7 linked regions of the Homo sapiens genome follow. The protein of the gene in region 2 interacts with the protein of the main gene of each other region in a biochemical or structural test. Each region holds a gene or a part of one and is shown on either strand. Other genes may lie near its edges.

Region 1 (3,992 bases), on a different chromosome or scaffold from region 2:
AGCACTTAGGGAGGCCAAAGCAGGTGGATCACTTGAGATCAGGAGTTCGGGACCAGCCTGACCAACATGGAGAAACCCCGTCTCTTCTAAAAATACAAAATTAGCCTGGCGTGGTGGTGCATGCCTGTAATCCCAGCTACTTGGGAGGCTGAGGCAGGAAAATCGCTTGAATCAGGGAGGCGCAGGTTGAGGTGAGCTGAGATCGCGCCACTGCACTCCAGCCTGGGCGACAAGAGGGAAACTCTGTCTCAAAAAAAAAAAAAAGTGATTAAAAAAAAAAAGGGAACTAAGTGCTTTGTGCTTTGGGAGGCTCAGAGTAGAAGGAGATACCTAGCTTGGGGAATGGAAAACCATGAAAGGCTTTGTAGGATAGGTAAGAGTTACGAAAAAGGGATCAGAGGTGGGACAATGGGATAGATGCAGCTTCAGGAAGATGAAACTGCTTGGACAAAGGCATGAAGACAGGAAAGCATGGGATATGTACCGGTGAAATAGACCAAGACCAAGTGATAAGCCCAGGTCACAAAGCCATCAACGAATGATAAAATAAAGTCTTAAAACCTAGATTTCTTCACCAGGACCAGAGGACCTCTTTTTTTTTTTTTTTGAGACGGAGTCTTGCTCTGTCACCCAGGCTGGAGTGCAGTGGTGCCATCTCGGCTCACTGCAAGCTCCGCCGCCCGGGTTCACGCCATTCTCCTGCCTCAGCCTGCCGAGTAGCTGGGACTATAGGCGTCCACCAACACGCTCGGCTAATTTTTTTGTATTTTTTTAGTAGAGACGGGGTTTCACTGTGTTAGCCAGGATGGTCTAGGATCTCCTGACCTCGTGATCCGCCCGCACCCGGCCAGGACCTCTTTTTAAATTAGGCCACAGTCCTATCTGAGAATAAGCTACATTCAATTTTCTTCCCAGATTAAAACTGCTTCAACGAATAGGAAGGTGAAGGCTGCCAGCACACAGAACTCAGTCAAGGCTGTTTATTGCAGCACTGCGAGCGACAAGTTGGAAACAATGTTTGTCAGCGAGCAAATGGTTGAATAAACTTGCTAACACAATCTGGAATATTATGCAGCTCCTAAAAATGAGTTAAACTGCCATTTATTGGATACACTTTGGATGTTCTGTTAAGAAATGCAACTTACAGAGAAATACACAAAACAGGATCCTATTTTTGTAAAGACAAACTAGAAATCCTGTGTACTTATTAATATCTTAGATCTGTGGAAAGAAGTGGAGTGGAAGCCTCCATTACAGTCTTGCCATGGGGGTGGAGAGCGATGACCATTTTATATTTTTACTCTTGTGAATTTAAAAAGCTAAGAATTTAAATAAAAACTGAGTGTACTGTTGTGAAGCCCACCTTCCTCTCCAGTTGTTCTGCCTGGGGGTGTGACAGCCACCAGCCTTTCTGCAGGTCAGCTCTTCACAGACCCCTTTCCGAAGCACAGCCAACACAAAGTGTGGCCAGGAATGTGCAACAGGACCCACACCCGGGGCCATCTCGTTCTGCAGAGGGAAACTGAGTCTCAGAAAGCCTAGTTACTCTGAGAGCTATGACTACCAGTCAGTTCTCCTGCCTTTCCCTAGTTGAGCATCTTTCCACAAAACTACCATTCTAGAGACAGAAATGATGCTGACTTGGTGGTCACTTTCCTGGCAATTAATTCCAATACAAAACCACCAATTACTTGACCAAAGTCTTTTTACTCAAGTATTCCACGTGGGTCGTTGCTCTTGGCTCCTGTGTTGTTAAGATATAATTTATTAAGCTAGCACTTACCCCTTAATCACCTAGACTGAAAGTGATCTTCACCTCACCTGCCTGCTCTCCTTCAGGAAAGAACTACATCTCACTGCCCAGCTTTTGGCCAATTTGGCCCTCAGTGGCTTCTCTAATCAATAACTTGGTTCTAGGCACTTCCTCCAGCAAGTACTTGCCATACTAACTTCTAAAGTAGAACTTTCAAAAAGCAGAAGGGGCAGATTTGAGGGGAAAAAAAAAAAGGGGCACTGTCTCGTGGCCCTCAGGCCCGAAATGTGCCCTTGTCTAAACAAACTCTTCGCCCAGCAGCAGCACAGGTTCGACTGCTCTTTTGACCTCAGACGCTGGAGAAGGCGGAGTGAAGGAATTCGAGGTCGAGTGGAAAAAGCCCGTGAACGGGCAACACGCACCTTGCGACACGAAGTTTCCCGAGCACCGCTGTGGCCCCGGCCTCGAGCTGCGGCACGGAAATGAGTAACCACAGCTCCTGCCCAGGGCACACCCGGCCCGGCTCGGCCTCGCTGCGTGACCTTGGACAAAGCTCGAGCTTCTTTGGTCGCTTCTTCAACCGCACAAGTTGCGGCTGCCTCTGCGCCCGTGAGCGCCGAGACCGTGAATGCGCGCGAGGCGTCGCCGCAGGCCCTGGACCACACGCGCACGTGGGCCACCGTACCTTCCGAGCCAAACGCCCCCCGCGCTGCGGTCCTCTCCTCCTGACACGGCGCCCGCCCGCTCCACGCTTCCCAAGCCCTGAGCTGGCAGCCTGGCAGCAGAGCAGGCCCCAGCGGGGCGGTCCGCGTCCCGCGGCGGGGAACCGCGAGCCCGGAGATGCCCAGCTCCGGGGCCGAGGCCGGGAAGGAGGCCCCGGGGCCGGGAAAGGCCCCCATCGGAGCGGGAGGTCGCGCTGCCACCTCCACCCAGGGAGACCAAGTGCCCCTTACCTGAGAGACAACGCCAAAGCAGGAAGACTGCGCCGCGCCAACCTCACGCACTGAGCCGCCATGACTGCCACTGCCCGTCGCAGTCGCCGCGCACGCACCAAGCGTGCGTGCAGGCAGCTATACCCACTTTTCTGCCCTACTACTTCGCCTCAGCCAATCCGTAATCGCTTTTCCTGTTATGGACAGGCAATAGTCACCAATAATTGTGGGTCACGGAAGAGCATCTTTCCCCACCCCCCGGTGGGCGGGGCCTGAGGCGTACCGGAGGCCCTGAAGAGGTGAAAGGTGAAGTGAGCATTGGGAGGAGCCTCCTGTGGGCGTGGCGATGCCGGGAGGAGCCAATGAGGAGGCAGCGTGAGGGGGCGGGGCCAGCGCCGGGGTGGGGCGCGCGCGTCGCGGGCCGGGAGGGACTTCAGAGCCTGGTTTTGGGTAGGAGTGAGGCGGCAGCTTGTCGTTTCCCGGCCCGCACCCGCCCTTGCGCTGACACCGCGGGCCTTCCTTTGCTCTGGGAACGAGCGTGGGGAGCCCTGTTCACCCTCACACCCCGGCTCCAGAGCGGCGCGGAGCACTCCATGTTTGCTAAATGAAAATGAAGTCTCGGCGCGAGCGCCACCCAAACGGCGGCGTAGTTGCTTGAGAACCGCGGAGGCAACCGCTTGGGAGGGCGCCCCGACCCCGAAGCTGCTTCTCCAGGCGCCCGAGGCGGAGAGAAGGCACTGGGGTCTCCGTCTCCACCAGTGATTTCTGGTGAAACAGGAAACAAAACCCGGGAAACAAATGGGACGAAATGTTGGCGGTTTTGATGCTGGATGATGGGAATATGGGCGTGTGTTTTGTACCTTTCTGTTATCTTCAGTTTTCTCAAAACACGAAAAACAGACTAAGAACAGCGCATAGAAAACATTGGGGCACAACTAAAGCTCATAAATGCACACGTTTTCATAACCTGACCGAGGTCCATGCTGCTGTAGCGCATACCCCCAAGAACAGAGGGCCGCGTGTTCTTATGGCCCCGGTGCCGGCCCCCAAGCGGGGTTCCCGCAGGAGATAGGGCCTGGCTCCCGCTTCAGCACCGCGTGGCCTGGAGTGCAGTTCTGGCGGCCAAGATCTGAGGGCTGTAGCCCGTGCCCTCACCAGGATCCCAGACTTAGAGTCCCTGCCCTCCCCGGGATCCCAGGGCTCGATCCTGTGCCCTCCCCGGGATCCCAGGGCTGGAGCCCATGCCCTCCCCAGGATCCCAGGGCGCGAGCTGGTGGCTTCTCAAGCGGAGTTTTGCCTGCTTGTTA
Region 2 (4,478 bases):
GGAAACGCAGTCTCTGAGGTACAGGACAGAGCTGATGCCAATGACAGCTTTCCTTCCCAACTCCTAGGCCTGGTCAGCCTGGTGCCCAAACACTTACCTCTTGAGTTCTTGAAAAAGCAAAACGAAAAGGAAGCAAACTCATACCAAACCCCTACATGTTTAGTGTGTCTTTAGCCCCTAATCTTCGGAGCCTGGATACCTTGAGATGCCACCTGGAGCATCCGCTGTCCGAACTCAATGGCGCCCCCTGCCGTGAAAGTCAACTTGTAGGAAGCAGAGCCTTCCCAGCCACCTGAAAGGGGAAGGACAGTGAATAAACAGCACAGGAAAAGAAAACTTATGCCCAAAGAGATGGCTGTTTTCCTCTCCAGGACTTCATCCAACGCCCGGGAGGCCTGCGGGGGCTGGGCCTGCACTGTGATGGGGACTTCCTGGTGCCATGGTTTCCAGCCTGCTGCCTGCATAGGAGCCAGCACTGCAGCCTGGCCTGGCCCTGCTGTACTCGCTTCCCCCTTTGGAACAATGGCCTCTCCTTCCTGGAACAAGCCTGTCCTCCCACCCTTGGCCCAATATGTACACGGGTGCCAAGGCCACATCAAGGTTTCTCTCCGCCCCCAGTCAAGCACTCGGCAGCTTCACAGGAACAAGCCCACTCAGCAACAGCCGACCTTAAAATTCAGAGCAGACCTCTCGTCCTAAGGGGGCCCAAGGACAGACTCCGGCCCCTCTAGCCTGGCTTCTGCCCAAAGGGGGACCAAGAGTGTCTCAATAGCAAGGGCGGGCCTGGCTGGGTGTCAAGGGGAAGGCAAGTTCAATGCAGAGGTCTCTGGGGCCTGCCAAAAAGCCAGCCCCAAAGCAGGGTGACTCTGGCTTCCCAGAGGCAGCTGCCTCTTCCTGGCTCTCATGAAAAGGCCCCTCTCAAGAACCTGATGCAGCTCCTTCCTGAGTCTAAAATTTGTATGCGCTCGCCAAGTTGCACTAAGCATCTTGACTCAGTCCGCAGGCTTCTGCAGACTTCACGCTCTGAAAAGCTGATCTGAGCTGCTGTCTTTCATGCCAGCATTTTCCCCACCTCTTGGCAATCAAACCCCACCAGCTGGCAGCCCAGAGCTGGGAAGAGGTCATGGCTAGGGCGATAAGGGTCTGAAGGGGACGCCCCCACGGCGGCAGTCAGAGGTTCCCAGGACACCTCCCTGCAGGCCCCATGCGTGTCCCTGAGTTCCCATCACCTACCTCCCGCTTCCGCCTTCACTGTTCCCTTGATGTAGTTTGCACCAAATACGGGCTGCTTGATCTCACAGTCTTTCATGAGATAAAATGGCATCATGAAGGACTGCATGGCATCCTTGCCCTTGGACAGAAAGATGACCTGCAGGGAGAGAGGGTGAGGCCATCAGTACTAGAAGCACAGCCCACGCTGCCATGCTTCCCGCCTGCTTCCTGGGAGTGACGAATCCTCTCCCAGTGCCAGGGTCCAGCAGCCCCATGGCTCTCTCTGTGCCAGACACTCCTGGAGAGAGCTTTGGAAAGGGAAAGGGCTCACCGCAGCCTGGAGAGGCCAAGCTCACGCACACGGGAGAAAAACGTGCTGGTCACAGATAGTATCTATGAGCAGGGCAGACTGCTTTGTCACTGACGTGGTGGGGTGGTGGCAGTGTTGCCTAAGTGAAGGGGCCTACGAAGCTAGGGAAGGACAGGCAGAGGCAAGGCAGGGATGGGTTCCTGAAAGAGGGGGGTCTCCAGCCTGAACTCTCCAGAACTGAGAATGATGGTGCAGTAGGTCGCTAGCTCCCATTGAGGGGGGCTATAAACAGCAACAAGAGCTCTCCTGGAGCCTGTGCCTGGAGAAACCCTTGGGTTTTATTTTTTCTTTTCTTTTCTTTTTTTTTTTTTGAGATGGAGTCTTACTCTGTTGCCTGGGCTGGAGTGCAGTGGCGCGATCTTGGCTCGCTGCAAGCTCCGCCTCCCGGGTTCACGCCATTCTCCTGCCTCAGCCTCCTGAGTAGCTGGGACTACAGGTGCCCGCCACCATGCCCGGCTAATTTTTTGTAGTTTTAGGAGAGATGGGGTTTCACCGTGTTAGCCAGGATGGTCTCGATCTCCTGACCTCATGATCCGCCCGCCTCGGCCTCCCAAAGTGCTGGGATTACAGGCATGAGCCACCGCACCCGGCCCCAGCCAGGGTTTTAAACCCACGACTTTTATCTGTGACTGAAGGTGCCAAGTTGAGCCTCCAGAGATGGGGTTTTGAGACTCTCCTGTCTTTGTGAAGTCATGGAGATTAAAACTTGAAAATGTGCTCCTCTTCTTCCAGCTGTCTTTGAGTCTAAGTCTTTTTTTTTTAGGCAGGGTCTCACTCTGTTGCCCAGGCTAGAATCCAGTGGCATGATCCCAGCTCACTGCAGCCTCAACCTCTCCAGGCTCCAGTTATTCTCCACCTTACCTCTCGGGTAGCTGAGACTAGAGGCATGTGCCACCACACCCAGCTAATTTTTGTATTTTTTGTAGAGATGGGGTTTTGCCATGTTGCCCAGGCTGGTCTCGAACTCCTGAGTTCAAGTGGCCTGCCTACCTTGGCCTCCCAGAGTGCTGGGATTACAGGCATGAGCCTCCGCACCAGCCTGTCTTTGAGTCTAAATCTTGAGTAGCCACAGGCAGCAATCCTTTTCCAAGAACATCCATTTGTATTTCTCAACCTCTCAGAGTCCACGTGGGTAACTCTCAGGCAGGGCCCATTCTGCAGCCTGGCATTTGTCATTCTGCGGGGTGGTACCGGGCTCTCTGCCCAGTCCGGAGGCCGTGCCATGCAACTGTACCCTGTTTACTGGATTTCTCACTCTGGATACACACAGGGCTTCATGGGCTACTCTCACAGAAAACAAAATATTAATAATAATAGTCTGGCCTCCAGGCCCAAGTCATGCCAGCGGCTGCATCCAACTCTATAGAGATTTTGCAGCAGCGGCTCTGGAATTGACATGGGTTCACTGCCCAGTGGTCAGGTCAGTTACACAAAGAGCCTGGTGATTCTGGAATCCAGGAGCATGTGACAGAGAAACAGGCAGAGTGAAGCACTAACACTCACCAGGATTCAGAGGCCACCTGACTCATGAGGCTGAGGCAGACCTGAGACTAAGACTCACGTCACCTCCAACAGCAACAAGCCTCTCAACCAACTGCCCTGCTGTGCAACTCACCCGGTAAGGGGTAAGGTAGACAGTGCCTTTCTTGGTCCCTTTGAAGGCTTCTGGCACGTTCTTCATGTCATTGAATGTGAGTTCCACGTGATCATAGGACATTAGGATGCTGTGATGAGAAAAGAGGAAAAGCCTCAATGAGACAGTATGGAGACGCGACGTCACCCAGACACTGGGCCTTTCTCCCAAGCAGCTGCCCGGCACGTCAGCTCTCATAACCTCTCAATAGTGCGGCATTAAAACTATTCATAGGGCTGGGCGCGGTGGCTCACGCCCGTAATCCCAGCACTTTGGGAGGCCGAGGCGAGCGGATGACCCCTGGTCAGGAGTTTGAGACCAGCCTGGCCAACATGGTGAAACCCCATCTCTACTAAAAATACAAAAAAATTAGCCAGGCACCGTGGCGGGCACCTGTAATCCCAGCTAGTCAGGAGGCTGAGGCGGGAGAATCGCTTGAACCCAGGAGGCAGAGGTTGCAGTGAGCTGAGATGGCGCCACTGAACTCCAGCCTGGGCAACAAGAGAGAAGCTCTGTCTCAAAAACAAATAAATAAATAAAGCCATTCATAGGGCCAGGCGCAGTGGCCCACACCTGTAATCCCAGCACTTTGGGAGGCTGAGGCGGGTGAATCGCTTGAGCCTAGGAGTTTGAGACCAGCCTGGGCAACATGGTGAGACCTCATCTCTACAAAAAAACTAAAAACCAACAAAAAAACCCATTAATATAGCCATGGAAGAAATGAGCAGGTTGGGGGTTCTGTAAAATTTCCCAAACCCCGCTTATAAAGCCCCCAAATGATCAACATGGTAGCAGAGCTACAGGGCTCTGAAGAGGCCATCATCCCTCAAGCAAGTTAGATAATCTGGCTTAACTCTTCTATTTTCTTTATTTTTTTTTTTTTTTTTTGAGACGGAGTCTCACTCTGTCACCCAGGCTGGCGTGCAGTGGCGTGATCTCGGCTCACTGCAAGCTCCGCCTCCTGGGTTCATGCCATTCTCCTGCCTCAGTCTCCCAAGTAGCTGGGACTACAGGCGCCCGCCACCACGACTGGCTAATTTTTTGTATTTTTAGTAGAGACGGGGTTTCACCGTGTTAGCCAGGATGGTCTCGATCTCCTGACTTCGTGATCCACCTGCCTCGGCCTCCCAAAGTGCAGGGATTACAGGCGTGAGCCACTGCGCCCGGCCAACTCTTCTATTTTCTTTTAAGTCCTTGTGATAGATGTTCTGTTTTTGCTGGTTTGTTTTTCAAGCCTAAAATATAAACATGTCTAAGAGATGA
Region 3 (4,352 bases), on a different chromosome or scaffold from region 2:
TCCTTCCTTCCTTCCTTCCTTCCTTCCTTCCTTCCTTCCTTCTTTCCCTTCCTTCCTTCCTTCCTTTCCTTCCTTTCCTTCCTTTCCTTCCTTTCCTTTCCTTCCTTTCCTTCCTTTCCTTCCTTTCCTTTCTTCTTTTTTTTTTTTTTTGAGATGGAGTCTCACTCTGTCACCCAGGCTGCAGTGCAGTGGTGTGATCTCAGCTCAATGCAACCTCCGCCTCCTGGGTTCAAGTGATTCTTTTGCCTCAGCCTCCCAAGTAGCTGGGATTACAGGCGGCTGCCACCACGCCTGGCTAATTTTTGTATTTTTAGTAGAGACGGGGTTTTGCCATGTTGGTCAGGCTGGTCTCAAACTCCTGACCTCAGGTGATCCACCCGCCTCAGCCTCCCAAAGTGCTGGGATTATAGGCGTGAGCCACCACGCCTGGCCATCTGCAGTCTTTATGAAGAGTTTATGTTATGTTAAATTAAAAATATATATATATTTTGTAAAGACGGGGTTGTTCTTGCTGTGTTGCCCAGGTTGGTCTCGAACTCCTGGCCTCAAGTGATCGTCCCACCTCAGCCTCCCAAAGCATTAGGATTATAGGTGTGAGCCACCATGCTTGGTGGATTTTTTTTTTTTTTTTTTTTGAGATGGAGTCTTGCTCTGTCGCCCAGGCTGGAGTGCAGTGGTGTGATCTCGGCTCACTGCAAGCTCTGCCTCCTGGGTTCATGCCATTCTCCTGCCTCAGCCTCCCGAGTAGCTGGGACTACAGGCGCCCACCACCATGCCCAGCTAATTTTTTGTATTTTTAGTAGAGATGGGGTTTTGCTGTGTTAGCCAGGATGGTCTCAATCTCCTGACCTCATGATGCTGCCCACCTTGGACTCCCAAAGTACTGGATTACAGGCGTGAGCCACTGTGCCCAGCCTGGATTATTATTTTTATAATCAGAAAGGACATCAAAGCTTTTTCCATTTTGGAGAAACGAATTTTGGGGGGTTTTTTGTTTGTTTTTTGAAACGGTATGCCACCATGCGTGGCTAATTTTTGTATTTTTTGTTAGAAATGGGGTCTCACTGTGTTGTCCAGGTTAGTCTTGAACTCCTGGGCTCAAACAATTCTCACCCTCCTTGGCCTTCTAAAGTGCTGGGATGATAGACATGCGCCAGTGCGCCCAGCTGAGAAACAGTTTTAATCTAGTGACAAACACTGGTGAAGCCCTCCTCCCTGTCTGACTTTCCAGGGGCTGAGTTATCATCAGAAAGTTGTTTGCAGAGCGGGGCTGGCCAAGGGGTATCAGGCTGGCCCCATCACAGGCCGGGTACTGCTCCTCCTGAGCAGGGTCCATCTTTAGCTCTGAGCAGTCAGGGCTAGTCAGGAACTCCCAGCCTGATGTGCAATCTCAGACAGGCTGTGTGTCCCTCGCTGCCCCAGGGGCAAGACTGGCGCCCTCCTCCACCACCCTGCCCCTCCCTGCCACCTGAGAACACTTGGATGCATGTTGTGTTCATGGCCGCATCCTCTGGGGGCTTTTGTTACACCTCTCAGGTGACACGTTCCGTGACTCACCAGTTAGATGACTCCCTTCTGTCCTTGTCTCTTGAAACACCACCTGGGGCTGGCTGGCCGTGCCCCTTGGCCCTGGTGGCCTCCCCGTGGCTGTGGTCACCCTGCATTCTTGCTGGGTTTTGGGAGGCACTCAGGTCCCCCCACTTCCCTTTGGAGCCACCTCATGGCTGCTCCTGTGAGCGCAAGCTGGTGTCCCCCTTCATGGTGGAGACTGAGGCTCAGAAAAGTCCGGTCTGCAAAAAGGTGCCCTGCCATGGGCCGCCGTGGGCAGGTCGGGCTCTGGGCGCATCCTCGTTGGTGTGTCTGTGCTCCAAGCAGACACCAGGGCTCTGGCTGGGTCTCCTGGCCTAGATGTTTCCTAGGGTCCTGTGTGCTGGGAGCCTAGAGTGAGTGAGTCAGGCAAGGTCCCCTGCCGAGGTCTCCTTCAAGGCTCCTTGGGAGCTGGTGCAGGGGTGGCAGGTCTGCCCATGGCCTCGGGGTTCGTTGTACAGCAGGAGTTGAGGCCATCTGGGTCTGGGCCCCATGGCTTTGAGATGTGTGGGACAAATACAACCTTCCCAAGTCTCTGTAAACAAGGGGTCGTACCCCAGGCTGGACTACAGATGGGGAAACTGAGGCTCAGCGAGGCGGCTGGCCCCTTGGCACCGTATCATCTGAGATCTCCACCTTGCAGAGCGGTGGGCGGTGTCAGTCCCACCCCACCTCTGAGGAGGTGACCTTGTGTGGTGCTGCCTGAGGTGGGGGTGACGGGCAGGCATGGGGGCTGGAGTGGCTGACCCTGCCTCCCCGTGTCTGCCTGTGTCTCCAGGATAGTGGCTACCCAGAGACGCTGGTCAACCTCATCGTCCTGTCCCAGCACCTGGGCAAGCCCCCTGAGGTAAGCGGCCCCCAGGGCTCCAGGCCAACCCTAATGTCCAGACCCTGGGACCCCAGCCTGGGGTCCAGGCCCTAATCCCTAGGCCCCTGGGAAAACTCTGTATACAGTATGCCTACCGCAGCCCACCTCCCTCACAAACCCTGTGCCCCCCAACCCATCCTCACCTGGGGCCCTGCCCGACCTGCTCCCCTGAACACCACAATACATCCCCCACCATGTACGGAGGCCAGCTCCATGCCAGCGCCTCTCCAGGGGGCAGGCCCATCCCTCCACCCCCACCCTGAAGGTTCTCCGAGATCAGCCCAGTCCCAAGGCAGGGTGAGGAGCCCCCTGGGGTACTGTGGCTCTCACCCCAATCCACCCCTGTCCAGCAGGTCAGAGCCACCGTGGGGTCCCCGTGTTCGGCTCACCTGCCTCCCTGCCTCCCCTGCAGGTGACAAACCGATACCTGTCCCAGCTGAAGGATGCCCACAGGTCCCATCCCTTCATCAAGGAGTACCAGGCCAAGGTGAGTGGTGGGGATGGCCTGTCCCCGAGAACCAGGCCAGGGGGCGCCTGGAGCTCAGCCTGGGCTCACATGCGCCCTCTCTCTCTCCCTCCACCTGTCTCCCCACACCCTGCCCCCACCCTGTGTTGCCATGTGTCTTGCTAAAGGAGAACGACTTTGACAGGCTGGTGCTACAGTACGCTCCCAGCGCCTGAGGCTGGCCCAGAGCTGTCAGGACCATGAAGCCAGGACAGAGGCCAGGAGCCAGCCCTGCAGCCCTCCCCACCCGGCATCCACCTGCATCCCCTCTGGGGGCAGGAGCCCACCCCCAGCACCCCCATCTGTTAATAAATATCTCAACTCCAGGGTGTTCCACCTGATGATGTGCTCTGGTCACTTTGCTGGGGGCGTGTGGGAGCTGACGCTCAGGGAGAGTCCTGGGGCACTGGCATCCAGGGCTGTTCCTGGAGACCAGGGTCTGTGACGAGCAGCAGGTGTGCAGACCCCCACCCCGCCCCTCACACAGCCACAACCTGCTCCTGCAGGCCAGAGGCAGCACAGCCCTGTCCCCATGCTTCACCCTGGCCCCTAGAGGCCACTGAGCAGCCCTGGTTGGCATCGGGGGAAACTGAGGCACAGAGAAGTCATGCCGCTATCATGAGGGGCACCAAGATTCAAAATGAGAACCCCTAGTGGCCTGGAGGAAGTGGGGGCCAGGGCAGGAAAAACTCAGGCCTCAGCTCAGCAAAGCCGGAGGGGCCCTGCAGGGTCAGCGTTAACCCCAGGTGCTGCTCCTGCCGCCCCGCAAACCCTCCTCCAAGGCAGAGTCCTGCTGTGGCAGGGTCCTGGGGCCAAGCACCCAGCCGCGATGAGAGGCGGCCGCACCATTTAGGGAGGGAGGTGGGTGGGTGGCAGCAGGGCTGGCCGGAGCCTCCCAGATGTCACCATTGAGCTGTGCCCACCCGAACAACAAAAAGGAGCTGCCAGGCTAGGTTCTAGGGGGACAGGCACCCTGGCAGTGGGCATGACCGGTGCAGAGGTCCCTCGGTGGCACAGGGCTGTGAGGTCAAGGGGCGCTGGATGGGGATGCATGCCCTTTGACCTCTGAGCCTGGCCTGGGCTTATCTCCCAGGGAAAAGATAAGACTGGGTTTCCCCAAGCCACACCCAGGCCTATTCATTTGAAACCAGACCCCGTCTCTGGTTGCCAGGGCAGGACAGCAAGCGACCCCCACCCCCAGCCTGGTAGGGGAGGGAAGTGGCAAAAGAGGACTCCCTGGACAGGGACATTAGGAGGGGTCCAGGCCGAGCTTTCTGGAGGGAGGAGACCTTGGGGTGGGTGGGGGGACACTGGCCTCAAGACTGACCTCCGCCCAGCCTTGGGTGCCTGGTCCCCAGCTGCCAGTAGAGCCGCCTTCCATTCCTGCCCTGC
Region 4 (4,478 bases), on a different chromosome or scaffold from region 2:
TGTGCCAGATTTGGCCCAAAGGCCAGTTTGTCTTACCCCTGTTGTATAGTTGATTGAATTACTGAGGGTACTTTTAGCGTGTGCTCATGGTTCTTTAAGGGCCACGATGCTGGCTCTTTAAACTTTTTCACAACTTTCACCACCCTCCCTTTATTAATAAAGTCTTCAATTTTTTCCTTCTGATTATAAAAATATAACTACCGTTTGGGGAGAATTAAACTGTTACTGAAATATTTAAAGAAAAATGTTTCTTAATGAGTCATATTTTAGCATATTTCCTTTCAGTCCTTTTTTTCAGGACTACTCTTAAGGGAAGCCATTGAGAAATGGAAGAGGCCATATTTTGTTTAAGAAATAAAATGTGGCCGGACACAGTGGCTCACGCCTGTAATCCCAGCACTTTGGGAGGCTGAGGTGGGCGGATCACCTGAGGTTGGGAGTTCGAGACCAGCCTGACCAACATGGAGAAACCCCGTCTCTACTAAAAATACAAAATTAGCCGGGCATGGTGGCATATGCCTGTAATCCCAGCTATTTGGGAGACTGAGGCAGGAGAATCGCTTGAACCCGGGAGGTGGAGGTTGCGGTGAGCTGAGATTGCGCCACTGCACTCCAGCCTCGGCAATAAGAGCGAAACTCCATCTCAAAAAAAAGAAAGAAAAATAAATAATATGCATACCTTTTGGGGGGAAATTCAGTTCTTTTCATTCTACATCTTTTGAACTTGTTTCCTACTGACCCCCAACTTTTGGTTGTGTCTCATTTGGGAAATAACTTTAAGGGGAAAAAAATCTAGCTCATATTAATTATGTAACAAATTGCCACACTCTCTTAACGGTATTTCATTATTAGTAGAGGTAACTATTGTGCTGCTGAATATGAGTGTAATAAAGATTTTCAAAAGAATCACTGTCAGTCATTACAAGAGCTTGGGATTTTCTGGCACCATTATTTGAAATTTTAACATGGTTATGTAAACAGATCAGATAGCAAGGAATGCTTATTTGATGATGATTATTGTTTGTTTTTACAGAGTTCCGTTCTGGAAAGGCACCCATCCTTATTGCTACAGATGTAGCCTCCCGTGGGCTAGGTTTGTATAGATAGGTGTCTCTGTCAATGGTATATGTATCTTTTGGTTTAAAGATTCGTCATTTCAAATTCAGACTTCAAGTTTAGAAAGTTGTATATACATGTGGTTAGATAAATATTTGAAAGAAAAAAATACAAAGCGTGATTCTCCCCATTCCCTGCCCCCCCCACAATTTTTTTTAACTTTGGTTTCCCCCACCCCCCTTTTATTTTCAAAGTCTCTTCCTGCTCCTAACAAACAGGCTTTGGTCTGCAGCAAGGCCTAGGCATGACTATTCAAACAGAGGGAGAGGAGACAGACAGCTGAATGGCTCAGCTTCTCTCTGGTGGTGGTTTCTGGCTGGATAGAATAAGCCTGACGAAACCTAGCTATTGTAAGCTAGTTTCTTCAGTTATTCTTTTCCCTATCCCTGTCTAAGCTAGATATATACAGAGAGGTCCAGTTTTATGAATGCTTATTAGATGGAATTTTATAAGTCTAATGCAGTATCAGAATAGCAAATATGTGTATTGCCCAGTTTAATTTACTGAGGTCAAATTATCATGGGCACTTGGCTATCCCCTCCTACCCATGCACTTATCTGTAGGTGTGTTATCAACTGATGATTTTCTGGAGTTTTTGACCCATTACCATTTAAGATATACAGAGAATTTTATGGTAGTTTAGCCCACTATTCTGAGCTAAACAGGTCTAACTCAGAACTTCTATATTTTAAAAAAAAAGATTATTTGTATTACAAGGAAATCCTTAAATTATTGACAGGTATTTAATTTGCCCAGTAAGGTGAGAAGTACCATATTATTCCCTTATACTATATAATATAAAGAGAACAGGTATTCAAACTGGAATACAAAAGTAATGAAGCCTTTTTATGCATTGCACTCATCATTCCCTCCTTCAGAGGTGGTGACCTGCAGCCATGATGGAAAGTTCTCTCTGCCCCTCTGCCCTCTGAGGTCATGTCTGGATCTGTGCCATTAGAACTTGGGCCTGTTGGGAGAGGAGGCGGAGGCCTGAAAGCAGTTTACATAAAGCTTTCAGTAATGGTTGGTTTTTAAACAGGCTTGCTATGTGCTGGTAGCTTCTTTGTGCATCTTGCCTAGACAATTAAAAATATTTGCTCCATGTCCCCTTGCATTTCTAAACCAAATTAATTGGCTACCATTAGAATAACTTAGACTCTTCATCCCACCCCCACTCATCCAAGTGAGGGGAGAGGGAAGGTACCCGAGTCTGTTTCTTGTTACTCAACATCAGTGCTTGTTTTGGGCCCCTTTGTTTGCTGCCTTGTAAAAAATCAAAAGAGGGAGAAAACCCACCAAAATGGCAGAATTCTGACCAATGTCCTACAAGATCCTGGAAAGTGAAGGCTTCTACCTCATAGACAGGGGTGCAATTTTCAGCTGAGTCACCAGGGCCTTTTTTCACTTCCTGTCAAGCGATGGTCTCTTAAATGTTCCCTTCAGGTAAGTTCTTTGATTCCCATAATTTTATAATAGTCATCCTTAGGCTACCACTTCCCTTTCCACTGGGATATTTTTTATTTTTCCTTTTTTTTGTTTGAACTACACACTGTTAAACTAAAAGTATTGAATTTATTTTGTTTTGTTTTTTAACAGAAGCTTTGATATCAGCTGCAGATCACTCAATACATGGCCGAGACAAATCTACATTGGCCGGAAGCAGCTCTAGATGAGCCTCTTGGCTAGACTTAGTCCCTCCTTATTAGTGATTGGCGATTCAGGCCATGTCATAGGGCCTTTCAGACAAAAGGTTCTTATCCCAGTCAGCTGGCCAAAACATTAACTTTGGATTTCTTACCCTGCTACAGCATCTTCTAGAAAGGCAGCAAGATAATATTGTGGCAGTGCACAGATAACATCAGGGTAGACTTGACTGGAGAAAACCAAATTCTGCGCTTGCTCCTGTGTGCCCCCATCCAGCTGTGCATGCACACACAGGACACCTTTCTAGTATGAAGAACTTGCATCATGTCTGCCCTCTATTGAGCACCCCCTTCTAGAAATACTTCCAAGTATTAGCATGTGAACTGTTGACTCCACCCTGGTGCTTTCTGCTAGGAAAGCACACTTAACGCATCCAGTGTAGTAATTGAACTTGTTCTACTGCCATGGTCATATGCAGTGGGATTGCATAAGGAGCATTATCCTAGCTCTGAAGATACCATGGAGTAGAATTCCCCACCCCCTGTCTTACATCCACCCTGGCCCTGTAAATTCTTTTTTCCTTTGTTGCGTCAACGACCCTAGCCGGAGACTCAAGCTGCCCCCTGTGATAAGTGCCTTCTCGTCTTTCTGGTGTGATTCAGGACTTTAGGGGTCAGTAAAGACCGAGGAGCCTTTATTGTAATAAGAAACAGACATAATGCCCCTTCTTCACAAGCCCTGTAACAACAGCTAATTTTTTTTTTTTAATCTCCCCTTTCTCCCTTGAAATTAATCCAGTCTGGGCAATAGATGCAGTCTGACCCTTTGGATGTAACTTACATTTTTTTTTATTAATTATTTTTTTCTACAATCACCCCAATTATCCTTGGGGGAGGCGTTGGAGGACCTGAAATTTTTACCCGAACCCAGGTTCTCCGGCGCTTGGCAACCAAATGGGGCTACAGAGAAGCATCTAAGCCAGTTCACAGAGCGAGCGTGTGTGGGGACTTCTCACTGCCACGGACCCTTGATGCATGCTCCCCGCGCTCCAGTGGTCCCGTGTCAGAAGGCGGAGTTTTCGAAAGGAGGCCGCCAAAAATAAAAGGCAAAGAGACGGGATCGGCTGCAGCGGTTTCCCAAAGGAGGAGGGAGTGTGCATCGGTCTGGTAACAAACAGAGAATGTTTTTTAATTATTTATATCACAAAAATCTGTGTTTTATCTAGGATATTTTCTGAATATTCTTTGTAAAATGCAGATTTTTTTCCACAAAACAGTAGGATTCTTTGTTATATTCTTAAAATTGTTTGTTTAAGTAGGTAAAAATATACATTCAGCTGAAAGCATTACACTAACATTTACATTTTAAGCCTTAGGAGGTTATTCAGCCCAATTCCCAGCAGTAGAGAGAATACTAAACTTGTGTCTCAAGGTTTCATGGTTTTCCCACGTTCTTTGGCTATTAATTTAATTTCCCAGGTCACGTAGACAATCATTGATAATTGAAACAAGTCCTGAGTTGAAATAACCTTGAGTTGAGCAAAAATATCCTCATTTTGGCAGAAGCTGGGCTTGGTAGTACAGTAAAATTTTAGTGTAATGTGCTCTTGTAATTGAAAGGGGATAGATAATCTGGATGTTTCTGCAAAGGAAAATAGGTGTGTACTTAACAGCTTTGGCTCTACTCAGTTTCTTAAAAAGATAAGAGCAAAAAAAGTT
Region 5 (4,478 bases), on a different chromosome or scaffold from region 2:
TCATTATTATCTATGGTCTATTTGTTGCTCTTTTTACTCAGAGTGCATAAAGCAAATTTGTATTATTCCACAACTGGTTTCTGTTGTCCTTTCAAATCACATTAAAGAAAACATTATAATTTAGATACTCGTCTGTCTTCACTTAAAAAAAAAAAAAAAGGCTGAGGCCTGGTGCAGTGGCTCACACCTGTAATCCCAGCACTTTGGGAGGCCAGGGTGGGCAGATCACTTGAGGCCAGGAGTTCGAGACCAGCCTGGCCAACATGGCAAAACCCCGTCTCTACTAAAACACAAAAAATTAGCCAGGCGTGATGATGCGCACCTGTAATCCCAGCTACTCAGGAGGCTGAGGCATGAGAATCACTTGAACCTGGGAGGTGAAGGTTGCAGTGAGCCAAGATTGTGCCACAGCACTCCAGCCTAGGTGATGAAGTGAGACTGTGTCTCAAAAAGAGAAGAAAAAGAAAAAAAAAGACTTGAATTGATACTATTGTTCAACAACAAGGGCACACTGGGACATTTTGGAAAATGGATTATTTCTGGGACATGTAAGCAAATAAAACGCTTGACACAAGCTAGAATGGAAGCTCTGTGAGGGAAGGGGCTGGGGTCTGTTGTTCACAGCTGTACTTTTAATGCCTAGAGCATTTGTAAAACAAATATATGAACGAATGAACTTAAATAGCCAAGCTTATATGGAGGGATTTATAGATTCACAAAATATTAGACTACGTGACCTCTGTTAACCCAGTCAACTCTGAAACCTAATGCTATGAAATGCTTTTCTAAAAGTTAAATAGTCCCCTGTTCTGAAGCAAAGGCTATGAAATAGCCTACATTTATGCTTCATGATCTGCTCCAATACGACACTCTCCTAGCTCGCTAAATAGCTATTCTTTGCATGACAAAAAAAAAAAGGGGGGGGCCTCAGAACCTTCCCCAGGCCAGTGCTGCTCACAGCCAGGTGTGTCCCCCTCCAGGAGCCCTCTGTCAGGATGGCTGTGCGAGGTCAGCCAGCTGGCCCGCCGCGCCTGGTGGCTGTCAAGCCTGGCAGAAATCCCACAGACCTGCCAAAAGAATTCCGAGGCCTCCCTCTTTTCTCGTCCCTGTTGCCCCGGCGACCCGAGGCCAGGCTTAGTCAGCATTTTTGTTTGACAAACTGCATTCTCCTGTCCCCCAACCCCCAAATTAAAAAAAAAAAAAAAAAGAAAGAAAAGGTTGAGGGTAAAAGCAGGGCTGAATTTGCTTTGGGAATAATGATTTCTCTACAAGGCAGCCCCCGTGAAGGGACAAGGGGGAGCCAAGGCTTTGCCACTTACTCGTCTTCCAGGTCCTGGTCCTCGAGGTTAAAATCTTCCAGAAAGATGGCCCCAAACCGTTATATTTAAATGAATAACACACATGAAAAGAAATACTCTCTTCAGGTAAAGCCATATGCCTGTTTTCATGTCAAGGAATTGTTCTTTTAGATAAACAGGCATTGAGAAGCCTGTTTCTCAATGTCTGACCTGTGACTACGATTTCCCACTTCATTTGGTAAAGTTGCAATTGTGCCTTTTAGGATACTGAGCAAATATTGCGTTGAATTTTTCAGTTGTAACAACAGAATACTCTGTAGTCATTGTGGGTGTGTGTGGCTCATGACATTTAAAAATTTATGTACGGCCTGTTGTAGAAAGGATTCTAGGCGCTTTGGAATGGGTACATACAAAGTCACAGCACAACTTCATGGCTGACACAGAATAAAAAAATGACTTCCCAATATATTAAGAAGAGGCAACAAAGCAGTATTAAAGTATGCTACCACTTTTGTGTTTTAAAAAACAAAGTAGACACATTGATACACATGATACATACAAAAAGACTAGAAAGAAATCATCAGCATATTTACAGCCACTCTTTCTAGGTAAGAGTATAGGTGATTATAATTTCCTTCTTTGTTGTTTAGTATTTTATACATTCCGTACCATAAACATACGTTTTGTCTTTTTGTGTGTAGCAATTCGTTTTCTTTTATTATTCTTTTTGTTTACATACAGTAAAATTCACTCTTTGTGGTATACATGTCTGAGTTTTGACAAATGTAGAGCTGTGAAATAGCCACCACAACCAAGACACGGAACTGTGCCATCTGCCCCACAATTCCTCAGTGCTGCCCCTTTGGAGTCTACTCTTTCTGTACTGTCAACCCTGGCAAGTGCTCATCTCTTCTCTGTCCCCATAGTTTTGCTTTTCCAGAACGTCACATAAATGGAATCATACAGGATGTAGTTTTGGGGGGAAGTCTGGTTTCTTGCACTTAGCAAAAACACTTTTTTAAATGCTAATCACTAAAGTAACTCAGTAAATTATATTTTTAATTTTTTTTTTTTGAGACAGAGTCTCACTCTGTTGCCCAGGCTGGAGTGCAGTGGCTCGATCTCAGCTCACTGCAACCTCCACCTCCCAGGTCCAAGAGATTCTCCTGCCTCAGCCTCCTGAGTAGCTGAGACTACCGGCACCCGCCATTATGTCTGGCTAATTTTTGTATTTTTACTAGAGACAGGGTTTCACCATGTCGGCCAGGCTGGTCTCGAACTCCTGACCTCAAGTGATCTGCCCGCCTTGGCTTCCCGAAGTGCTGGGATTACACGCGTCAGCCACCACGCTTAGTCAAAAATTAAAATTTTTTTCTACTTAAAAAAACTCAACAAATCAAATTTTAATTTCCTTAAAAAAATGAAGAGAAAGCAAAACTTCAATAAGAATTGCTTTTTTTTTCTAGAGTTGCCATTTCTTTGGTGAACCTGAAGTAGCCTCACAGCCTTTGGGAAATTCAGTAAAAATAAAAGAAAACTCTATCACAGACAAAAGACTTCCTTTCACAGAAATGCACTCTTTATGTCTTCCATGTTAGATTCCTGGTACCCCTCCACTTGAAGTGTCTGCCGCATTCCAAGATAATTCATCAATTATCAGATACAAGTAGCTCAGCTCTGTTGCTACACCAGCCAATGCTAGATTGGAGGGACTGCATTTAAGGAAATTCTCCTGCTTCAGAAGATTCCTTATCAGCAGAGATACCAAACCTTACTGGCTCTTTTGATCCTAATTCTGTAGCCAGTAACCTGAGGGGTCACTGGAAAGAAAAAGGAGTATCTGATGCTCACTTTCACAGAACTCTGCTCAGGTGCATCTGGTCTCAGTTCCAGTAATGAAAGTCAAAGATGGTAGCCACTGGGCCCCTGTGAAGCAGGGAATGGTTTTAATTTACTCTTCTGGTCTTTAACTTGGATTAAAGTTAATTATTTTTCCTTTTCTGCAAAAATACAAGTTATCTGAAGGCAGTCACATCCCATTTACCTGTCTGTTATTTTCTACTAAATAAATATTGATTGAATGAATGAAGAGATAAAGGAATGAAGGAAGGAAAAAAAATATGAGCTTCCATACTGAAATAATGAAGGCTCACTTTAGATTTGTAATCAAAGTTTCCTCAGATCCATTTTGTTAATGTTCTCGCATGATTTCAATGCCAATGAGTTAATAGGTGACCCTTTGGCATTGTGGTATACATCAAATCATGCAACAAGGACCAAGGAGTTGTTTTTTTCATGGCACAACATCATCAAACTATATGCCTAGTGGAACAACGGCATAGCAGAAGGAACAGGAAGAAAAATGAAACAATATTTATATAGCATATTCTCCACAGGGATCTTTCAGATTCGTCGTATCATTCAAGAATGATAAAACTATAGACAGCGTGATAATTTATTAGTAATTAGGGGATAAATTCATCTACTTATTAAATTTTGCCAACCTCCCTTTCTACTACAGAAAGAGAGCATAGCCTGGGGCCTTGCTCCCAGACAGGCTCAGTTGGTAGAAGGGCAGGTAGGTCTAGGCCTACCTGCAGGGCCTGGGCCCCAAGAAGACAGGCTGTACAATTAAGGCCGCCTACAAGCAAGAGGAGAGCCAGTGTAATTACAAACTGTCCACTGAGCAAGGGATATTCAGGCAGTTGTTGACTACCCAGGACATAGGGGTAGGACAGAGAGAACAAACAGAAGTGTACAGATAATCTTTAAATTTCACCAGAACCACCACTTCCCCCATCTCTCCAAATTCCTACCAGATGCTGGAAGGCAACTAAACAAGTGAGCCAAAGATCACTTTTAATTCCAGTCCATTTCCCTGCTGCTGCCATGGCTTAGGTTCAAAAAGTGAAGCAGAAAATCACCAAAAGAGTTCAAAAAATCCACCAAGATGAAACACAGAGCCCACACCTGAATACTGAATAATCAGGTGTCCTGGCAAATGCCCCAGAAAACTATTATAGAACACTCCAATGCCATTTATTATATGGTCTTAAATCATATCTTTGACAATCAGGAGCATGCTGCTTCTGCATGGGGAAAAAATCTGCCATGATTAAAAAGTCTATTTAGACCTTTTCCTGTACTCCCTAACAAAAATAAAAAGGCATCAGAACACCA
Region 6 (3,235 bases), on a different chromosome or scaffold from region 2:
TAACTAACTGCTGGATGCCGGTTCTGGGAGTGACTACGTGTCTCTCATCATCCAGCAGGCTAGCCCAGGAGCCGTTCCCTATGATGGAAGTTGCAGGGTTCCAAAGATCAACAAGGAAAGGCAAGCCCCAGTGCAAAGCACTTTCCAAATTGGCCAAGGCCAGTCACATGGCCAAAGTCAGAGGTCATATGGGAGGGGTGATCCCCTCCAGGTGTAGATTCTGAGAGTGGAGTTCTGACGGCTGCTTTTGCAAATGACAATAATGTCTGAAAAGTGACATTATCTGATTCATAGTTTCAAAGGTCCTGTGATAATAAGGATTACGTAAGGAAGACTATAGCCAGATGGGAGGATGTGGCAAGGCTATGGGCCACTGGAGGGCAATGGTGTTTGTTTGTTCGACTGCTCTGCACCACAGATGCAGAGGCACAGAAGTTCAAGACATTGTCTGGCCTGAAGCTGCCATGATCAGGAGGGGGAACAATGACACCCAGCCTCCACACCTTCCTGGTATTTCAGCAGAAGCATTTTCTCCGTCTTGCCAGAGTGGACTTTCTCATGTGCTTGCTGGAACGGGCTGGAAATCATGGTGTCCATGAGATGGGATGCGCAGATAAGAGCTTCTGCACAGCTCCCATTCTCAAACATAGAGATACCCGCTAATCACTAAGTACTTGCTAATTGCAGGGGAGCAGACCATTGAGGACTAAAATAACTCACTGTAAGTAAGTAATAACAAAACATCTTAAGGTGAAATGAAACAATAGTCATTTTTCTTTTTTCTTTCTTTAACAGAAAATATGCTGGCATGCTAATCGCGTGAGACAACTTGGCCCACGGACAGCCACAAAGCACAAAAACAAAACACAAACTCACTCAGAGAAGAAACAAGAATCGTGTTTTCCTGGCATCTACGAGAAGCGCTTTATTAGAAGCGCTTTATTTTTCCTCTAGATTTCTTTTCTAAAAAATGAAAAACAAAAACAAACTGAAACAAACATTTAAAGAAACAATACAAACTTCAGGTGATGATATTCAAGCATGTTCTTTTATTAAGCATAGGATGCGAGGCACAGCAGGAGGTTTAAGTACAATGTGAAAGCAAGAGAACTGAGACTGTGATTGACAGACAAAGGGATTAACTAACGTTTTATTCTCTGCCCCCCAAAATATCCTGTGTATTCTTAAGTATATACGCTTCCCTTCCTGCCTTTCAAGGTATCTAAGGAATGATTTGAAAAATTTGTTATAATCTCTAAAGAATTTTTTGCATAGCATTAGCAAAGGAGTCTATGACAAGTACTTTGCCACCTGGTAGTTCTGCGTATTCTACTCCCTCTGGGTGTCACTGTCATCCTCACTGGCTGGGACAAGGTTCTGAGATTTGTCTCCCCAGCAGTTGCTAAGCTGGCTCAGTCTTGGTCAGGATGAATGAAACAATTATCTCCTGGATCAATGCAGCAAGGAGCAGTGAACACTTGCTTTTTCTTCCCTAAGTAGGAGAAGGCCAGCCCCCGGCTGCAGTGGTGGCCGTGGTGGTAGCTGGATGGGACGAGGGGACCTCAGGCTATTCTATAACAGTAAAAGAAAGAGAATTGCTGGTGCTTCTCCAGGGAGATACGGAACCTACACACCAAGCAGGTTTTTACTTTCAAACAGGCCACCACCAGAAAGCAAAGAGACCTATGCCTAGCCCAGCCCCAGAAAAGTGATACTTTACCCCAGGAATTCCCTGCTTCCCATTGGTACTTAAGATTTTTCACTCTGTTGTGACTGCTCTTATTTCCTTTACTCTTGCGGATCTGTGTTGGAGGGACATTTGGAAGGGGCCCAGCCCTGGCACTTGCGTGAGGGGACACACACAGGGCGGGTGTGTGTGCCCATCCGCTCTGAGCTCCACTTAGCCGGACTGGCTGCCAAGCCGTTCTTGGATCAGCCTCTCGCTGAGCGCCCACAGGGTCCGGGCCGTCTCTTCGCTCTGAGCTTCTGGTGAGGGCATGCAGCGGCAGCAGTTGTTGAAGTACATCCCTCCCAGACCCTCCAGTTCTGGGACAGCAGCACAGTACACGGTGGTGGCAGCTCCCTGTTGCTGGAAATCCAAGAAGAAAGACAAAAAAAAATTTTAAGAAAAGGAGTGATGAGATGGCGTCATTTCGACTGCCTGGGCATTAGCAGGCCTCCCCCACCTGGTTCAGTTTCAGCTGGATCTTGGCATAGCAAAGGGTACTGGGCTGAAAGCACATGACTGTAAAAAGTATAATGTGACTATCCTGGAAAAACGAGTTCATAAACTCCGCTTGTAAAGCTGGTGTAACTTTTGACACCTCATACAGGGACAGGCTTGGAAAATAAATACACATATCAATACGTCGTGGCAGGCGCCTCTTCCACACAGAGAAAAAGATGGTATCCTTCTGAACGTGCAAGAACAAATTCATCCAACCCCTCAACTTCTCCATGTATAATGTAATTCGATACCAAATCGTTTGTAGAACCTTCTGTCTGACAAACCAACCACTCTTAATTGTGGTCCATCAGGTAGAAAACCCAAGTGGGGCTGCTGCCAGATCATCCCTTTATGCTTTGCCCACGGTGCTGCTAGGGGAAGGGTTGGCAATGTTGTGTTAAAACATTTAATGCACACACACACACACACACACACTCCTCACCATACATTCATACTTAGCACAAACACATAACACATTAATTCATCCAGATCCCATGAAAACCTTTTTCTAAATGTCATATTTGACCCAGATTTACAATGGGACCACAGGTAAGGGGGTACATTTCCTCCCAGCCCACTTCAAAATGTAAGTTGCAAAGAGTGCAGCTGATCACTTTCATTCACCTTTTGAGTAACAGTTGCGGCTGTGGCTAGGGACGTGTGCAGTGATGAGGCATCATATCATCCAAACTGACAGAATACTGTCAGGGATGCTATAAAGAGGGCAAGAAATCACTTTGCTTTGCAAGCCATAATTAAAAATAATAGGCTGCTGTTCAGAGGGAGACATGGTCGGCACGTCTCTAATTTAAAACCAATACAGTTTATCTGGCATCTTATGATTATTTATGTGTTTCAGAGCCCTAGCTGCATCCACTAATTTTCAGCTGATGAGAGGGAGAGGGGTTGCAAGAGAGGACCGGAAAAGGTAACTGAAGATAAGCTCGCCCCCACAAGGAAAACACTAAGGAACTTTGATTGTGGGGGAAATGGCTTTCCGACCCGACC
Region 7 (4,478 bases), on a different chromosome or scaffold from region 2:
GAATTCCCATGTCCTCTTTTTAGGAAAGGGTCTCACTTTGTCACCCAGGCTGCAGTACAGTGGCATGATCTCGGCTCACTGCAGCCTTGACCTCCCTGGCTCAAGTGACCCTTCCACCTTACCCCTCCACCAAGGAGCTGGGACTACAGGTGTGTGCCATCATGCCCGGCTAATTTTTTCTAGAGACGGGGTCTAGCCATGTTCCCCAGAATGGCCCTTTTCCTGTTTTTTGTTTTTTTTTTTTTTGAGATGGAGTCTTGCTCTGTTGCCCAGGCTGGAGTGCAGTGACATGATCTTGGCTCACGGCAGCCTCTGCTTCAGCCTCATGAGTAGCTGGGATTACAGGCATGCACCAGCATGCCTGGCTAATTTTCATATTTTTAGTAGAGATGTGGTTTTACCATGTTGGCCAGGCTGATCTTAAATTCCCGGCTTGAAGTGATCCGCCTGCCTCAGCCTCCCAAAGTGGTGGGATTACAGGCACAGCACCCAGCCTTTTTTTTTTTTTTTTTTGGGGGGGGACAGAATCTCGCTTTGTCACCCTGGCTGGAGTGCAGTGGCACCATCTCAGCTCACTGCAACCTCTGCCTCCCAGGTTCAAGCGAGTCTTCTGCCTCAACCTCCCGAGTAGCTAGGACTACAGGCCCGTGCCACCACGCCCAGCTAATTTTTGTATTTAGTACAGATGGGGTTTCACCATATTGGCCATGCTGGTCTCGAACTCCTGACCCCGTGATCCACCCACCTCGGCCTCCCAAAGTGTGAGAATGACAGGTATGAGCCAACATGTGGGGTCCCTTTTAATCTTTATCAGGGCTATTTCAACAAAGAGAGCCTCAGGTGGGTGCTAATCTGTCTTTAACACCTGTTATTATTCCTTTATAACAAAGAGATTAGGTCTCAGGCTCTGAGAGACATCAGAAGTCAATGAGAAAGTAATCATCTCATTCTTGTTTTTGTTGTATTAAATGTTTACATGTTTACATTTACCACCTATTTATGACAAAGCAATACCAGTTTTCCAGTTAGGATAGGATATGTTTCCCCCCACCACCCCGGTTTTAAAATAAATTTCCTTAGTTTAAAAATAATTTTTTAGGCCGGGTGCGGTGGCTCACACCTGTAATCCCAGCACTTTGGGAGACCAAGGCGGGCGGATCATTTGAGGTCAGGAGTTCGAAACCAGCCTGGCCAACATGGTGAAACCCCATCTCTACTAAAAACACAAAAATTAGCCAGGCATGGTGGTGGGCGCCTGTAATCCTAGTACTTGGGAGGCTGAGGCAGGAGAATTGCTTGAGCCCAGGAGGTGGAGGTTGCAGTGAGCTGAGATTGTGCCATTGCACTCCAGCCTGGGTGACAGAGCAAAACTCTGTCTCAAAATAAATAGATAAGGCCATGTGTGGTGGCTCACGCTTGTAATCCCAGCACTTTGGGAGGCCGAGGCAGGTGGATCATGAGGTCAGGAGTTCAAGAGCAGGCTGACCAACATGGTGAAACCCCATGTCTACTAAAAATACAAAATCAGCCAGGCATGGTGGCACATGACTGTAATCCCAGCTACTTGGGAGGCTGAGGAAGGAGAATTGCTTGAACCGGGGAGGCGGAAGTTGCGGTGAGCCGAGATCGCACCATTGCACTCCAGCCTGGGGGACAAGAGTGAAACTCTGTCTCAAAAAAATAAATAAATAAATAAATAAATAAATGATTTTTTAGGCTGGGTGCAGTGGCTCACACCTGTAATCCCATCACTTTGGGAGCCTGAGGCAGGCGGATTACCTGAAGTCAGGAGTTTGAGACCAGCCTGGCCAACATAGTGAAACCCTGTCTCTGCTAAGAATACAAAAATTAAAAAAACAAAAATTTTGTAAAAATACAAAAATTAGCCAGGTGTGGTGTGTCTGTAATCCCAACTACTTGGGAAGCTGAGGCAGGAGAATTGCTTGAACCTGGAGAGAAGAGGTTGCAGTGAGCCGAGATCGGGCCACTGCACTCCAGCCTGGCAACAGAGCTAGACTCTGTCTCCAAAAAAAAAAAAAAGACCTAAATTAGAAAGGTAAATTGTTGGGGCCGGGCGCGGTGGCTCACACCTGTAATCCCAGCACTTTGGGAGGCCAAGGTGGGTGGATCACGAGGTCAGGAGATCGAGACCATCCTGGCTAACACGGTGAAACCCCCGTCTCTATTAAAAATACAAAAAAAATTAGCAGGGCGTGGTGGCAGGCGCCTGTAGTCCCAGCTACTAGGGAGGCTGAGGCAGAAGAATCAGAAGAATGGTGTGAACCTGGGAGGCAGAGCTTGCAGTGAGCCAAGATCGCGCCACTGCACTCCAGCCTGTGCGACAGAGCGAGACTCCGTCTCAAAAAAAAAAAAAAAAGTAAATTGTCTGGGTGCAGTGGCTCAAGCCTGTAATCCCAGCACTTTAGGAGGCCAAAGTGAGAGGCTCGCTTGAGGCCAGGAGTCAAGAACAGCCTGGACAACATAGTGAGATCCTATCTCTAAAAAAAATAAGATTAAAGATATTAGCTAGGCATGGTGGCATACGCCTATAGTCTCAGCTAGTCAGGAGGCTGAGGTGGGAGGATCCCTTGTGCCCAGGAGTTTGAGGCTGCAGTGAGCCATGATTGCACTGCTTCACTCCAGCCTGGACAGCAGAGCAAGATCTTGTTAAAAAAAAAAAAAAAAAGAAGGGAGGGAGGGAGGGAAAAAAAAAGAAGAAAGGTAAATTCTAAACCTTCTAGAAGAAAACAAAGAAAGCCTGGTGTGGTAGCTCATGCCTGTAATCCCAGCACTTTGGGAGGCCGAGGCAGGTGGATCATCTGAGGTCAGGAGTTCAAGACCACCCTGGCCAACAAAATCCCATCTCCACTAAAAATACAAAAATTAGCTGGGCGAGGTGGTGGGCACCTGTAATCCCAGCTACTCCAGAGGCTGAGGCAGGAGAATCGCTTGAACCCGGGAGGTGGAGGTTGCAGTGAGCCGAGATCGTGCCACTGCACTCCAGCCTGGGGGACAGAGCAAGGCATTATCTCCAAAAAAAAAAAAAAAAAAAGAAGAAGATCTTCGTGAAAGCACTCATCATCAACAAAACCACGGATAAAGATAATAATGGAAGTATAGAGACGGCACAGGGTGCAGGGAGGTGAGGATGAAGGTATTGCTGGGGCATGTGGGAAAGTGCCCAGCCCAGCCCAGCCACCCATTTGATGTCCCAAAGAGGAGCAGGGTGTGTCCAAAATTAGAGCTACAGGCAGTAGAACTAGGACTCAAGAGCAGGTACAGTGGCTCATGCCTGTAATTGCAGCACTTTGGGAGGCCGAGGCAGGCAGATCATTTCAGGTCAGGAGTTCGAGACCAGCCTGGCCAACATGGTGAAACCCTGTCTCTAATAAAATACAAAAAATTAGCTGGGCGTGGTGGCGGACTCCTGTAGTCCCAGCTACTCAGGAGGCTGAGGCAGGAGAATCGCTTGAACCCGGGAGGCGGAGGTTGCGTGAGCCAAGATCACTGCAGCCTATCTCAAAAAAAAAACAGAAAAATGAACTAGGAATCAAACCGGGGAAGCTTAAAGGGGCTTCAGTCTCAACTCATCCTACAATCCCATCCTGCAGATGGGAAGATAGGGGACCTGCCCAAGATCCCAGAGTGAGCCCAGGAGAAGACTTGGGCCCAGTCTCATCGGTTCCCTCCACTCTCCCCCTCACCCGGCCCACCTGTGTCAGATGCTGTTCAGAGGCAAAGCCCAGGCCGTAGACTGTGTTGGCGCGACTGTCGGCCCACTGCCCGAACTTCTGGGAAGTTTTGGTGAAGGTCATGTTGGGAGTGACAGTGCTGTTGATGATGGCCTAGGGTCGGGGAACAAAGTTCAAGGTAGATGGGACAGATACTAACAAACATGAAACCCCCCAGGTATTACCTTGTATTAGGGTCTTGAAGGTCTTTACTCTGAACCCTTTCAGGAGATAGAGACTAGGGCCTGGGAAGGCTTAGGGTTTCCTGTCCCTTGGGCACACAGCAAGCCAGCCACCAGACCCAAGGTTGTCACCAGGACTCCTGGTGCCTCTGCCCCACCCAGACCCCACCCTGACCTTGGCGCCTCCGATGCTGATGATGCGGTACACATTGCGGGTGGCATCGTAGAAATAGGAGACAGTGAGTGCGTGCTTGCCCGCTGGGATCCAGTTTCGCTTGGTGGCTGGGTCAATTTGGAACACGTGCGCCCGTGTGCTGAAGATTGGCTGCTCCCTGCGTGGGGAGAGGGTGTTTGGTGGGGGCCAGGCACCCCCACTTAGAAAGCTCAGGGCCAGGCTGGGGGAGGTGGGAGCTCACCTGGCTGTGGACATTGGTCAGGCTGGGATGGGCAGGCTCTAGGGGGCAGCCAGAGAGGTGGCAGGAGCACTGGTTTGGCCCCTAGGGAGAGAGGAGGGACTATGAGTGTCCCTCAGGCCAGGCTGAGGGAGGCCAAGCAGGTTCCATCT

Evidence for each region.
Region 1: the proteins of WBP2 (region 2) and GRPEL1 form a complex in vitro, tested with the Homo sapiens proteins (one study listed by BioGRID).
Region 3: the proteins of WBP2 (region 2) and COPE form a complex in vitro, tested with the Homo sapiens proteins (one study listed by BioGRID).
Region 4: the proteins of WBP2 (region 2) and DDX17 form a complex in vitro, tested with the Homo sapiens proteins (one study listed by BioGRID).
Region 5: the proteins of WBP2 (region 2) and WWTR1 form a complex in vitro, tested with the Homo sapiens proteins (one study listed by IntAct).
Region 6: the proteins of WBP2 (region 2) and WWOX form a complex in vitro, tested with the Homo sapiens proteins (one study listed by BioGRID).
Region 7: the proteins of WBP2 (region 2) and HOMER3 form a complex in vitro, tested with the Homo sapiens proteins (one study listed by BioGRID).

What each region holds. Positions count from the first base shown.
Region 1 is NC_000004.12:7,065,265-7,069,256, forward strand, and holds the start of GRPEL1 (grpE protein homolog 1, mitochondrial precursor), read right to left. Parts: upstream 2,801-3,992; 5' UTR 2,769-2,800; coding exon 2,707-2,768; intron 1,363-2,706; exon of another isoform or gene 916-1,362; intron 1-915. UniProt on the Homo sapiens protein: Essential component of the PAM complex, a complex required for the translocation of transit peptide-containing proteins from the inner membrane into the mitochondrial matrix in an ATP-dependent manner.
Region 2 is NC_000017.11:75,848,371-75,852,848, forward strand, and holds part of WBP2 (WW domain-binding protein 2), read right to left. Parts: intron 3,307-4,478; coding exon 3,198-3,306; intron 1,370-3,197; coding exon 1,234-1,369; intron 293-1,233; coding exon 200-292; intron 1-199. UniProt on the Homo sapiens protein: Acts as a transcriptional coactivator of estrogen and progesterone receptors (ESR1 and PGR) upon hormone activation. In presence of estrogen, binds to ESR1-responsive promoters. Synergizes with YAP1 to enhance PGR activity.
Region 3 is NC_000019.10:18,898,463-18,902,814, reverse strand, and holds the end of COPE (coatomer subunit epsilon), read left to right. Parts: intron 1-2,365; coding exon 2,366-2,434; intron 2,435-2,867; coding exon 2,868-2,942; intron 2,943-3,088; coding exon 3,089-3,136; 3' UTR 3,137-3,301; downstream 3,302-4,352. UniProt on the Homo sapiens protein: The coatomer is a cytosolic protein complex that binds to dilysine motifs and reversibly associates with Golgi non-clathrin-coated vesicles, which further mediate biosynthetic protein transport from the ER, via the Golgi up to the trans Golgi network.
Region 4 is NC_000022.11:38,488,671-38,493,148, reverse strand, and holds part of DDX17 (probable ATP-dependent RNA helicase DDX17 isoform 1 precursor), read left to right. Parts: intron 1-1,033; coding exon 1,034-1,093; intron 1,094-4,478. UniProt on the Homo sapiens protein: As an RNA helicase, unwinds RNA and alters RNA structures through ATP binding and hydrolysis.
Region 5 is NC_000003.12:149,535,566-149,540,043, forward strand, and holds part of WWTR1 (WW domain-containing transcription regulator protein 1), read right to left. Parts: intron 1-4,478. UniProt on the Homo sapiens protein: Transcriptional coactivator which acts as a downstream regulatory target in the Hippo signaling pathway that plays a pivotal role in organ size control and tumor suppression by restricting proliferation and promoting apoptosis.
Region 6 is NC_000016.10:79,210,462-79,213,696, reverse strand, and holds the end of WWOX (WW domain-containing oxidoreductase), read right to left. Parts: exon of another isoform or gene 2,090-3,235; coding exon 1,901-2,089; 3' UTR 1,030-1,900; downstream 1-1,029. UniProt on the Homo sapiens protein: Putative oxidoreductase. Acts as a tumor suppressor and plays a role in apoptosis. Required for normal bone development. May function synergistically with p53/TP53 to control genotoxic stress-induced cell death.
Region 7 is NC_000019.10:18,934,640-18,939,117, forward strand, and holds part of HOMER3 (homer protein homolog 3), read right to left. Parts: exon of another isoform or gene 4,411-4,478; 5' UTR 4,344-4,410; coding exon 4,330-4,343; intron 4,246-4,329; coding exon 4,089-4,245; intron 3,846-4,088; coding exon 3,714-3,845; intron 1-3,713. UniProt on the Homo sapiens protein: Postsynaptic density scaffolding protein. Binds and cross-links cytoplasmic regions of GRM1, GRM5, ITPR1, DNM3, RYR1, RYR2, SHANK1 and SHANK3.